Linked DNA regions of Homo sapiens. The protein of the gene in region 2 interacts with the protein of the main gene of each other region in a pairwise test. Each region holds a gene or a part of one and is shown on either strand. Other genes may lie near its edges.

Region 1 (7,040 bases), on a different chromosome or scaffold from region 2:
TTTCTGATAACAGTATAATAACACCAGCCAATCTGTTTCAAAGTTATTAAATTCTAATACCTCAGAACATACAGATAACATTTAAATCAAGCTATACTGTCTTCTGTTTCTGATCAAACGTAAAATTTGCTCACTTCTAAATGTTAAACAAAACCCTGACTGCCTCAAGACCCAAGAGAGGGCCTACAGTTGTTCTTTGCTTCTAGAAGAATTCAGCAAATGTAAGCAGTTCTCTAAAAAATGTGGGGAAAAAAATGCCTCAGCAAACCACACAAAATTATCCAATCACTTTTTGGGTCCAAAGAAGTCTGAAATGTTCCCTCTGCTCTGCCACCACATCACTAAGCTCTCTAAGAAGCAGTCAATGTAAGTCATTCAGAAAATGTAGTAGGCTGTCTTGATGATCCTTAATTCAATTCTATACTAAGGTAAATTCCCCCATTCATAAATTTATTTGACTTTTATAAGCTATACTTATATTTTATGATATCATATAATAATTCATCCAATATTTGTATTCAGAAACATATTTTAGAAGTTAATGGCAACAACAACATTGATCTTCTAGATAAAATGTGCATACTAATAGCTGACATTCTTTCAAAGCCTAACATTGGGTCTCTATCACAGGAGACAATGTGGTGTAATGGTTACACGTGGCATCTAGGTGAAAAGGCCTGGGTTTCAACTTTACAATTTCTTTGCTGTGAGACCTGATATAAATTAATTTATCTAAGCCTTAATTTGTTTAATTTGTAAAACTAATGCTAATAACTACACAATAAGGTTGGTGGGTAGATTACTTGTGGTAATGCATCGTCTAGTACAGTGTCTGGCAAAGAGTAAACTCAATAAATGTTGAGATGATGATAATGGTAATAATGATAAATCTCTCATTACCATAAACAACAGAAGTTATGACTTTCTCTGAATTCCTATATCAGTGGTCTCTAAAATTTCTGTAAAATCTATCAGACCTTCCATATACTTATTTATATCATATATGTATATATATAAATATCTGTCTATATATGTAGTTGAATCCCCTATAGATTATAAACCCCATAAATTAAACATTTGATACTTCATTTATTAATAGCACATATCATATGCAGTTTTTTGGGTTTTTCTGTTGTTTTTGTTTTGTTTTGTTTTGTTTTTGAGACGGAGTCTTGCTCTGTCACCCAAGCTGGAGTGCAGTGGCGTGATCTCGGCTCACTGCAACCTCCACCTCCCGGGTTCACACCATTCTCCTGCCTCAGCCTCCCGAGTAGCTGGGACTACAGGCGCCCGCCACCACGCCTGGCTAATTTTTTTGTATTTTTAGTAGAGATGGGGTTTCACCGTGTTAGGCAGGATGGCCTCGATCTCCTGACCTTGTGATCCACCTGCCTCGGCCTCCCAAAGTGCTGGGATTACAAGCGTGAGCCACTGTGCCCGGCCCATATGCAGTTTTTAACAACACACATTCAAGGGCATATGTGATTGTGTAGTCAAATGCAGTAGAGTACTAGTCTGATGGAATTAATCCTCCAAACTATAACTAAAATATAAGGTAAATAGCCTAATGCTTTTATGATTGTTTATTATCTCTCTATACTGCAAAATCTTTTTGGAAGTACTGTTATGAGTCAAATGGAGGATGTGCTAAAAATGACTTCTTTCCTCCAAAAAAGTTAATAACAATGGAGCAAGAGGATGCTTGGCCATGACCTCACAAGTATTTGGCAAATAAAAGATGCAATCACTACAGAACTCTGCACTTGAGAAGATGAGGAAGCCATATAATATGGATATTTGCTAACATTAATGTAGAATATCATCTATTAGTGGTTATTCCACCTCTAAAAAAATTTCCAAATTCAGTTTATTTTATTGGAATTCAGCAGTTTGTGGGGAATAGTACCAAATTTTGATCTATGAAATATATTAAATATTACACGGTTTATAGCTTTAAAAAATCAAACTGATGCCAGAATATAATTCCAATGAAGATATATTTCTCATAATATAGCCAAACCAAAAAGAAAGATCAAATTCAGTGCTCAAATAAGTGCAAAAGGAAAGCTGATGATACTACACAGTTATTTCCAGGGGTTTCTAAAAACTACCTCCAAACCTCACTTCCTCCCCTTGTACAGCTGCTGTGGGAACAAACAGCTTCACTATAGACTGTATACATAAAGAGAAACTGAGAATAATGATCAGTTATGTTCCCATTCTCAGGTACCAGGCCATAAAAAAACCTTAAAATCAGATAAATATAGAGAATACTACTGTGTCCATTATCTAGATGAATTTATCGTGGTCATGCTCATTCCTATATAACTAGTCAATGAAATATTAATATTAATGTACAAGGCCTAATAGTCAATCAAAAGAAAATTTCATAAAAATATAAATTAAAACACATAAATGAATGCGGATGGGACATTACAGATAAACATAAGAAGACTTTCTTTTCTAGAAAGTGGAAAAAAGGAGGCCAATTGTCTCAGTACCACAAGATTCGGGAATGACATTTCAATGGTTTTCTTAGATTTTCTTTGTGCCGCGTATGTGCCAGACTGAGTGCTAGAAAAGCCAGCAACTCAGAAGTATTAAAGGCAGACACGGCCAGGCGTGGTGGCTCACGTCTGTAATCCCAGCACTTTGGGAGGCCGAGGTGGGCGGATCACGAGGTCAGGAGATTGAGACCATCCTGGTTAACACGGTGAAACCCCGTCTCTACTAAAAATACAAAAAATTAGCCAGGCGTGGTGGCGGGTGCCTGTAGTCCCAGCTACTCAGGAGGCTGAGACAGGAGAATGGCCTGAACCCGGGAGGCGGAGCTTGCAGTGAGCTGAGATTGTGCCACTGCACTCCAGCCTGGGTGACAGAGCCAGACTCCATCTCAAAAAATAAATAAATAAATAAATAAAAATAAATAAAAAGCAGACACACACAAAGCCTCAATCCAAACAACAAAGAAACAAATGGGCAGATTCTCAGATACCTCACAGAGTAAAGAAGGACTTCCCTGTACTATCTTTCCAACTTCCTGCATATGAATAATTTTTCAAAATTGACTTAAAAACAAATGGAAACTTTCAAAGTGGCCTCCTGAGGTTTTGAATTATGCAAAGATAAAATATGACTGAATTAGTATTATCATTGTAAGTGACAGAATTACTGAAAAATTGTTTCTGGAGATATCTTCTAAACACATGGTAGGAGAAAAAGGAAGATATGAGGTCAGCATCATTCAGTTAAGAAACATTTATTGAGGCCTTCTACATATAAGACTGAAGGCAAGCATTAAAAATTCAAAGACAGAAGTCATAGTATGGCCCTCAAGCTTAGAGGGGGAGACAACCAAGATCAAAAAGAATTGCATGTTGCAATGTAGTAGTGGTGGATAGGTTGAAAATAAAACCAGAAGTGCACTTAATTTATAATGAATTAGATGAGAAGCCATTATGAAAGGCTTACTAGAAGAAGGAATAGCAGTACTCAGTTTTATTGGATGAAGATAAATTATAATCATGGAGAGAAGCTAGAAAGGGCATTCTAAAGTGAGGTCTTAGCATGTGCAACACCTTAGAGATAGGAGAGGACAGAGAGAAGAGCAAGTGTTATTCACATGCGGAAGAGGTAGCAGAGGGGCCAACAGGGGGCTGGTTCTCAAATCTGATGGAGAAAAGCCTGTTTGGCCTCTACCTGGCACCATCACATACCAGGCACTGTGAAAAGTGCTGCTAATATAGTGATGAAAAAGACTTGGTTCTGCTCCTCAAGAGGAGACAGAGAGGAGCTGTTTCTCTAGTGAGAGAGACAGGCACAACCTGATCATTCTAAAATAACAGTTTGAATAGTGATCTAGAGGCGTTCGTTATGGGAATGAGGGGAAAATATCTAGCTTTCTGTGAATAGGTATGGGAATGTCAAGGGAGTGTAGAGAGTGAATTATAAGCAGTTTGGTATACCTGAGAGAAATTAAGCAGAAAGGCTGAAGAGATGCTTCTGGAGAGGTAAGCATATTATAAGAACGTCAAGGGGTATGGACTACGCCTTGCAGGCAATGGAAATTATTAAGAAGTGTGACATGGTGAGACTTTAAATGAATTACTGTGACAGCATTGTGTGTGTTGGTGTGGGAAGGAGGGAAATGAAGGATGATGAGGGCAAGAAACGGTCAAAAAAGGAAGTAAAACCAGTAGAATATAGTGCCCAGAAGACAAGGAAGATGGAAAGAAATCAGAAGAAGGTCAACAGTGGAAAGTGCAGCCAAGAGACTTGATAAGGGGTCAGAAAAAATTTACTCAATTTGGCAATATGAGATTATTCTGTCACTAGGGTCATCAGTTTCAGGACAGTGATGAAGACAGAAGCCAAACCGAATAATTCTAAAAAGGTAAATTAAGAAAGTGAGGCAGCTAGTATATACTAGTATTATCAGAAGTTTGAAGGAAACAAGGAAGGACAAATGTCAAGAGAGATTATTTTCCAATATTTGTGGCAAGTGAAAGAAGTATTCTATTTCTTCAAATTATTCACATTGAATCATGTTGACAGCTGCTATAAAGAAAGAGTCGATCGGGAGAAAGAGTAGGAGATACAAATAAAGGATTTAACTACAGAATGAGTCCAGAGATGAAGAGCATTTGGGTCAAGGATATGGATGGCAAGTCAACCCTGAAGAAAAGAAACATTTGGTCTTCTGGGAATGAAAGACAATGACGATGGCTATGGAAGTTTTTAGGTGGTAGGAGGTTGAGGAATAGCAGAAGAGAGATATCCATTTCCTCCAATAAAACAGATGATGAAATCACCTGCTGAGAGTGAAGAACATGTGGGTTTAAGATGAAGCCTGAATAGGTCTGAAATTACTCTTGAAATAAATAGGACCAGGGCTAATCAAGCCCATGGTTAAAGACTGACAAGTGATCATTTACTAAACATGATATTTTTAAAACCCTCAATCTAATCCTTTTTCATAAGGTAATTTATTTCATAATTTGCTTTATGAGTTCAAATGTAACTCAGCAGTAATCTAAAGTAAGGCAGTGTTTATTTTACTTATTTTCTCAAATTGAGGTGCATCATCATGTTATGTTTGTTTAATTTCTGCTTATATTTTTGTTATACACATAAAAATTATTGGCCGGGCACAGTGGTTCATGCCTGTAATCCTAGCACTTTGGGAGGATGAGGCAGGTCAATCACAAAATTCGGAGTTTGAGACCAGCCTGGCCAACATGGTGAAATCCAGTCTCTACTAAAAATACAAAAATTAGCCGGGTGTGGTGGCACGCACCTGTAATCCCAGCTACTTGGGAGGCTGAGGCAGGAGAATTGCTTGAACCCAGGAGGCAGAGGTTGCAGTGAGCCAAAATCGCACCACTTCACTCTAACCTGGGCAACAGCGCAAGGCTCTGTCTCAAAAATAAAATAAAATAAATTTTTAAAATACGGCTTATGTTATCACAAGCATCACAAGCAGAAGTTGTTTTTTGTTTGTTTGTTTTTGTTTTTGTTTTTTCATCTTAAAAGAACCCTGCCTGGTAGGTATCACTTTTCCTGTTATATAGATGAAGAAACTGAGTATCAGAGAGGTGGAAAAAAAATGACACATCCTTTATTTCCCAGTAGGTAGAAGTGTCAATAATCACTCCCAAGTGTTTTTCTTGTCAAAGTAGAAATTTTCCACTATATCATAAATTGTCTTAATTGAAGATCAAAGATAACTTGAATTTAATTTTTTGCCCATGTTTGTTTTGTATTTAAGAAACATAAGATTATCCCAAGTCTATTGGGAGAAAAAGGTGATTACGTTAATCAAAAGAAAAGTCACTTTAAAGAGTCACAGGAACACTATTTTTTAACCAGAAGCTGTTTTAGACATGACACTAATAACTTTCCTTAATTAAAAAACTTATCAAGCTTTATGAAAAATATTTAAGAAACACGATCTAACTAAAAAATGGTTCTTATTGATAATCTAAATGTAGTTAACTCACAAGTTTGCATGTGTGGTAAGTATTAATCCCTCTTTTCTTAATATTTTTAAGATCTCATTTATATCTGCAGAAATAAAGGCCAAGTCTAGATGGCAGGTCAAACTTTTTACTAAAGTTTGAAAATAGCGCCTACAGTTTTTTGAAAACCATTCGAACTGCTGGAATATTTGGCAATATTTGACATCGTCATATAATGAGTCAACCAAAATGGTTATGATTATTTCAGTGCTTGCAAAGATTTCAGGCTAGAAAATCTTCCCCAAACCTCTCTTAATTGGACAAAAATTTATAATGCTCCTAGGAGTATGGAATCACCATAACTGAATATATAAATCTGAACAGATCTATGTCTGTCAGCAGACACAGAATATTTCCAGATAATATTTTCATGTATATACATTTTTGGCCTCAAACATTAATAGTAGTTCAATAGACTTAAGAACATAAATCTGTCCCCAGTACCCAAAATAAAGTATATGCCTCAAATTACATTTTAGTGCCATAAATATATTATTAATCATTAAACTAGGAAAGAATGAAAAAAGTTTCAAAAATGTGCAGCCATTGAATTTTTGTTCCGAATATACAAACATCACTTCGTTGTATCATCAGTAGCCTGAGACTTAATTAGAATTGCAAAAAAACATATACATCACTTAGTCCAACTCCTTAATTTGAGAGACAAGGAAACTGGGCCCAGGGAAAGAAAGCTTACCCAGATTCAGTTGAGGTTAAAGTGGAATTCAAATCTAGGTATCTAGATTCACAGTTTAATGCACTTCCCAGAAGCAGAAAAGATATAAATAAACTTATGTAATTTCATCTGGCAACCAAATTCAGACACTGAGTAGAACTTTAAGGATAGTCCTGAGTTTGCTGTTTTATCATATTCAAAAGCACCTACCATAACAAGTGGATAACTAAACAACATTATAATCGCAGGATGAACATTATTTTAATTATTTAAGCATATTATAAACAAACTTCAAACTACATTATTCAAGAACTCTTCTGAGTAACAATCAACTGAAATCATTCTCA
Region 2 (3,824 bases):
ACCCCATAGGCTCTCCACCAAGCTGTGTGCTAAAAGAGGTGACTGCCATCTGTGTGTGCCCTGGGCTCACCTTTTATTTCACTTTCCCTTGCAGGGACTTTCCATCTAACTGGAAAGATGAAGAACATTTCCCCTCTCCTACGCTAGGCAGGGCTGGGGTTTGGGAGGTCAGTGACAATCAGGGGCTAGAGCAGATACCTGGCTATTCTGGAGAAGGGGGGGACCTAGAAGGGACTCAGGAGGAATGCCTGGAGGCAGTAGGTGAGGCATACTTAGGCTGAATTTCCAGGGAAGCTTGCTGGAGTCATCTCAGGTCAGCAGGCCCAGCAGAGGGGTTAATGTCTGCCTTGCTCTGGGAATGAGGTGCTTTCCAGCCCTGGTAACAACCTCCACCTGTCTCCCTTTGAGCCCTTGCAGAATGAAGTGTTTGCATCGCGACATCAGGACCAGAACAGTGTGGCCTGCATTGAGGAGAAGTGCTATGTGCTGACTTTTGCCGAGTACTGCAGGTAGGTGGTTCCCTGCACCCTCTGGCTGGCCTCTTCCCTCAGGCTCCCCAGGCATATTTGGGGCTGCTTGGAATTCCCCGAGAGGATCTCATTCTGCTCTCTACCTGATCTTACTCACTGAGCCTAATCTCCCAGAACTTACTTCCCTATTGCTTGCCTCTACCATCTGATATTTTTTGGAAGAAAGAAGAAAAATTGTGTTGCCACACTGAGGTAGAATGGTTGGAGCAGAGTTGGGGGGTAACATTACTGCTCTTGGAAAAAATTTAGGCGAATTGGCAGGCAAATGGAGAGAGGCCCTGGCAAGTGTGGTTCTCCAGTGACAGAGAAGATAGCCTGGTGGTTGGCAGAGCAGACATCATCCCTGGGATGGGTGGAGACAGTACCACCCCTTGGGGAGCTAGGATAGCCTAGCTCTCTGGGTCGGGTAGGGTAGGGTAGGGAAGGAATTGGTCTTCCTGCAAAAGTGGCTGGAGTAAAGACAGTGAATGGTATCTCTCTACAGGTTCTGTGCCATGGCCAAGCGCCGAGGTGAAGGCCTCCCCAGCCGAAAGACAGCACTGGTTCCCCCCTCTGCAGACTATTCCACCCCACCCCACCGCACAGTGCCAGAGGACACGGACCCTGAGCTGGTGTTCCTTTGCCGCCATGTCTATGACTTCCGCCACGGGCGCATCCTTAAGAACCCCCAGTAGCCTCCTCATGCCCATGCTGGGGCTACCCATGGGCAAGTGGGGCTCGGGGTAGGGGGCACTGCTTGAAGCACAGCACTTGGTTAGGGGGCCACAGAGGCCTAAGTTTGCTGGCCTGTGGTTTTCTTGGGGGGGAGGGCAGGGGCCCCTGTGGGTTCTGGGCTCCAGGGGAGGGAGCTGGGGAGGCCAGGGTATAAGAAAAGCATCAGAACTCTCAGCTTGGCCCAAGGTACCTTCTGTGGTTCCCCTGGGTGGAGATTTCCGAAAAGTAGTCTTCTCTGAGGCTGGGCCAAGCCTGAGGGAAATGGGGCCCTAGGAGGGTGGGGGCGGGAAGGAGGGGCAAGGTCTTTCAGGAACCAGACCCAACAGGCCCTTCTGTAGCCTCCCCCTTGCCCTCAAAGGGGGAGTGGGGGCCAGCTTTACCTCACCCACTGTGACCCGCCGCTTCCCCTTCAGCCTGGGACCAGGCTTTCCTAGATCCCAGCACAGCTCTGAGCTTGTTCCTTTGAGGCATAGAGAGCCAGAGTCTGGCTTCCAGAGCATTGACTTCCTCTTCCTAGACTTGAGGCCTTTTCTCTGGCTTTCCTCCTTTGCCCTGCAGTAGCAACTGGTGCTGGGACAAGTTGACCCACCTCTCACAGTCATGGGTGTGGCCCACTTGTGGGAGTCTCCTGTCCACCTCCCAGAGACGGCCACCCAGCGGGTCTGGCTTCCCAGAAAGTTAACTGATGATTGTGGGGTTTGTCATATCTGGGAGGGAAGATGGGTGCTGGGAGAGGGTTGGGGGCAGGGGGCAAGGAAAATTGCTACCTGATTTGTTGAAGATTTTTCCTCTTGCCTTACACATGGAGGTTCCAGGAAACCTCTTGCAGAACTTCACACGTGATTCTTCAAGCCACACCCACCTGAAATCAAACCAAAGGAGTGCTGTGGCTCCCCTTGCCCTGCCACCCTTTCCCTAGTCTTTTGTAGATTGCACTAATTTACATCCTAGCAAGAATCAACACTGTATCAGTCCACGGACCTGCTGAGCTGCAGCCACTTGCTCTAGGAGCTAAGGACTTGCATTTTCAGTTTGTTCCTGTTGCCCAGAGGCCCTGTTCTCACCTCATGCTGCTCCCCAGAGTAGACTAACAGGCTCAGTCCCCTGTTGTCCTTGTGGAGACTAGGCCTTGGCCCTGGCCCTGAGACTCTGTGAGGGGGCTGGAGCAGCCTGGTTATTTCCTATCTGTACCAAAGAGGAGTATGGTGGGAGAGGGAGTGGAGTGCAGTGTGGCTTGGGCCTGGTGCTGGGAACCTGCTAGCTGAGCACTTCCACAAGGGCATACCCCTGGGGGCAGGGGCTGGGGCTGAGAACTGCAGCCCTGGGTCTTCCCTTAGGGAGGAAGGGCAGATGAACCCAGCAGGCTTAGGAGGTGGCACTGGGTGAGGACAGCTGGGCAGGGGCTGCAGAGGGAGGTGGAAATGAACCCTGAGGGCTCCCCCAACTTGCCATGCCCTGTCCCTTAGTAGATGAGTTGCTCCTGATTGGTCATTGGGTTTGGGTGAGGCCTGGAGGCTTCAGAGGTGAATTTATGCTTGGGAAGCCTGATCCCAAACCTGAAGGGAAGGGACTTGGATCTCCTTATATTGAATAAGCTGTTTGGAGGAAGGTGTCTGTCTGGGAGGATGGGGCAGTAAATGAGGTTGGCAGAGTGGCAGTGGGGGCTCTGCAGAGCCAGCCTTGGAGCCTGCTCATTCTGGGCCCTTGCTGCCAAGGAGCCCAGCCTCACCTAGCAGGAAAGGAGATGAAGGCCCTCCTCCCAGGAGGTAGGGTCTTGGCTGCCCCGAACTTAAATGCTTTTGAAATCTCTTAGATGTGGAAATATTTTTTCGAACCTGAAAATGCAGCTGGTAGAATTTCAATGGAAGCATAATCCATGTAAAATATATTTTAGTTGATATTTTGTAAAATGCACTTTTTGTGTGTGTTGATCCTGGTTTCCCAGATCTGTATTTCAGTGTTTACAAGGGAGGAAGGACCTTTCCTCACCTCCCTTTTGACAGAGATTAGAAGTACTTCTTTAAGAAAAAAATAAATTTGAGAAATTGTATTGATTTAGAAAAGGATCGTTTCCTGTGTGTCCTGTCATCTTTTGGTGTGTGGGTGTGGAGAGACCCACTATTCTTATTTCAGAGGTCCCTCTTAACCCCTGTGGCATGGATGCTCACCAAGGCCAATGAGCAAAGAGGGCAGGGAAGCAGAGGGAAAAGAGAGTGAGGGAAGGAGACAGAGGGACTGGGAACTTGGAGTTGACTTCTTGATTTCATGGTGGCCACAGCTGCCTGCTTAGGTCTGTGTGAAATACTTCAGTTGCCAGCCCTCACCTGACCAGTGACCTGGAAATTGGTCCCCAAGTAGGTACATGGCAAAGATACCTTCTTATCACTGGCCTCATGCAGTGGCTCCTGCCTGTAATCCCAGTGCTTTGGGAGGCAGAGGCAGGAGGGTTACTTGAGCCTAGGAGTTTAAGACCAGCCTAGGCAACATAGACCATGTCTCTCGAAAAATTTAAAAATTAGCCCGGCATGTCAGTGCATGCCTATAGTCTCAGTCAGGAGGCTAAGGTAGGAGGATTGCTTG

The links. Proteins that work in one complex are often made in the same cells at the same time.
Region 1: the proteins of BAHD1 (region 2) and KHDRBS2 interact in binary tests that used the Homo sapiens proteins (3 or more experiments, as listed by UniProt).

What each region holds. Positions count from the first base shown.
Region 1 is NC_000006.12:62,276,199-62,283,238, forward strand, and holds part of KHDRBS2 (KH domain-containing, RNA-binding, signal transduction-associated protein 2), read right to left. Parts: intron 1-7,040. UniProt on the Homo sapiens protein: RNA-binding protein that plays a role in the regulation of alternative splicing and influences mRNA splice site selection and exon inclusion. Binds both poly(A) and poly(U) homopolymers. Phosphorylation by PTK6 inhibits its RNA-binding ability.
Region 2 is NC_000015.10:40,464,927-40,468,750, forward strand, and holds the end of BAHD1 (bromo adjacent homology domain-containing 1 protein), read left to right. Parts: intron 1-408; coding exon 409-509; intron 510-1,014; coding exon 1,015-1,204; 3' UTR 1,205-3,310; downstream 3,311-3,824.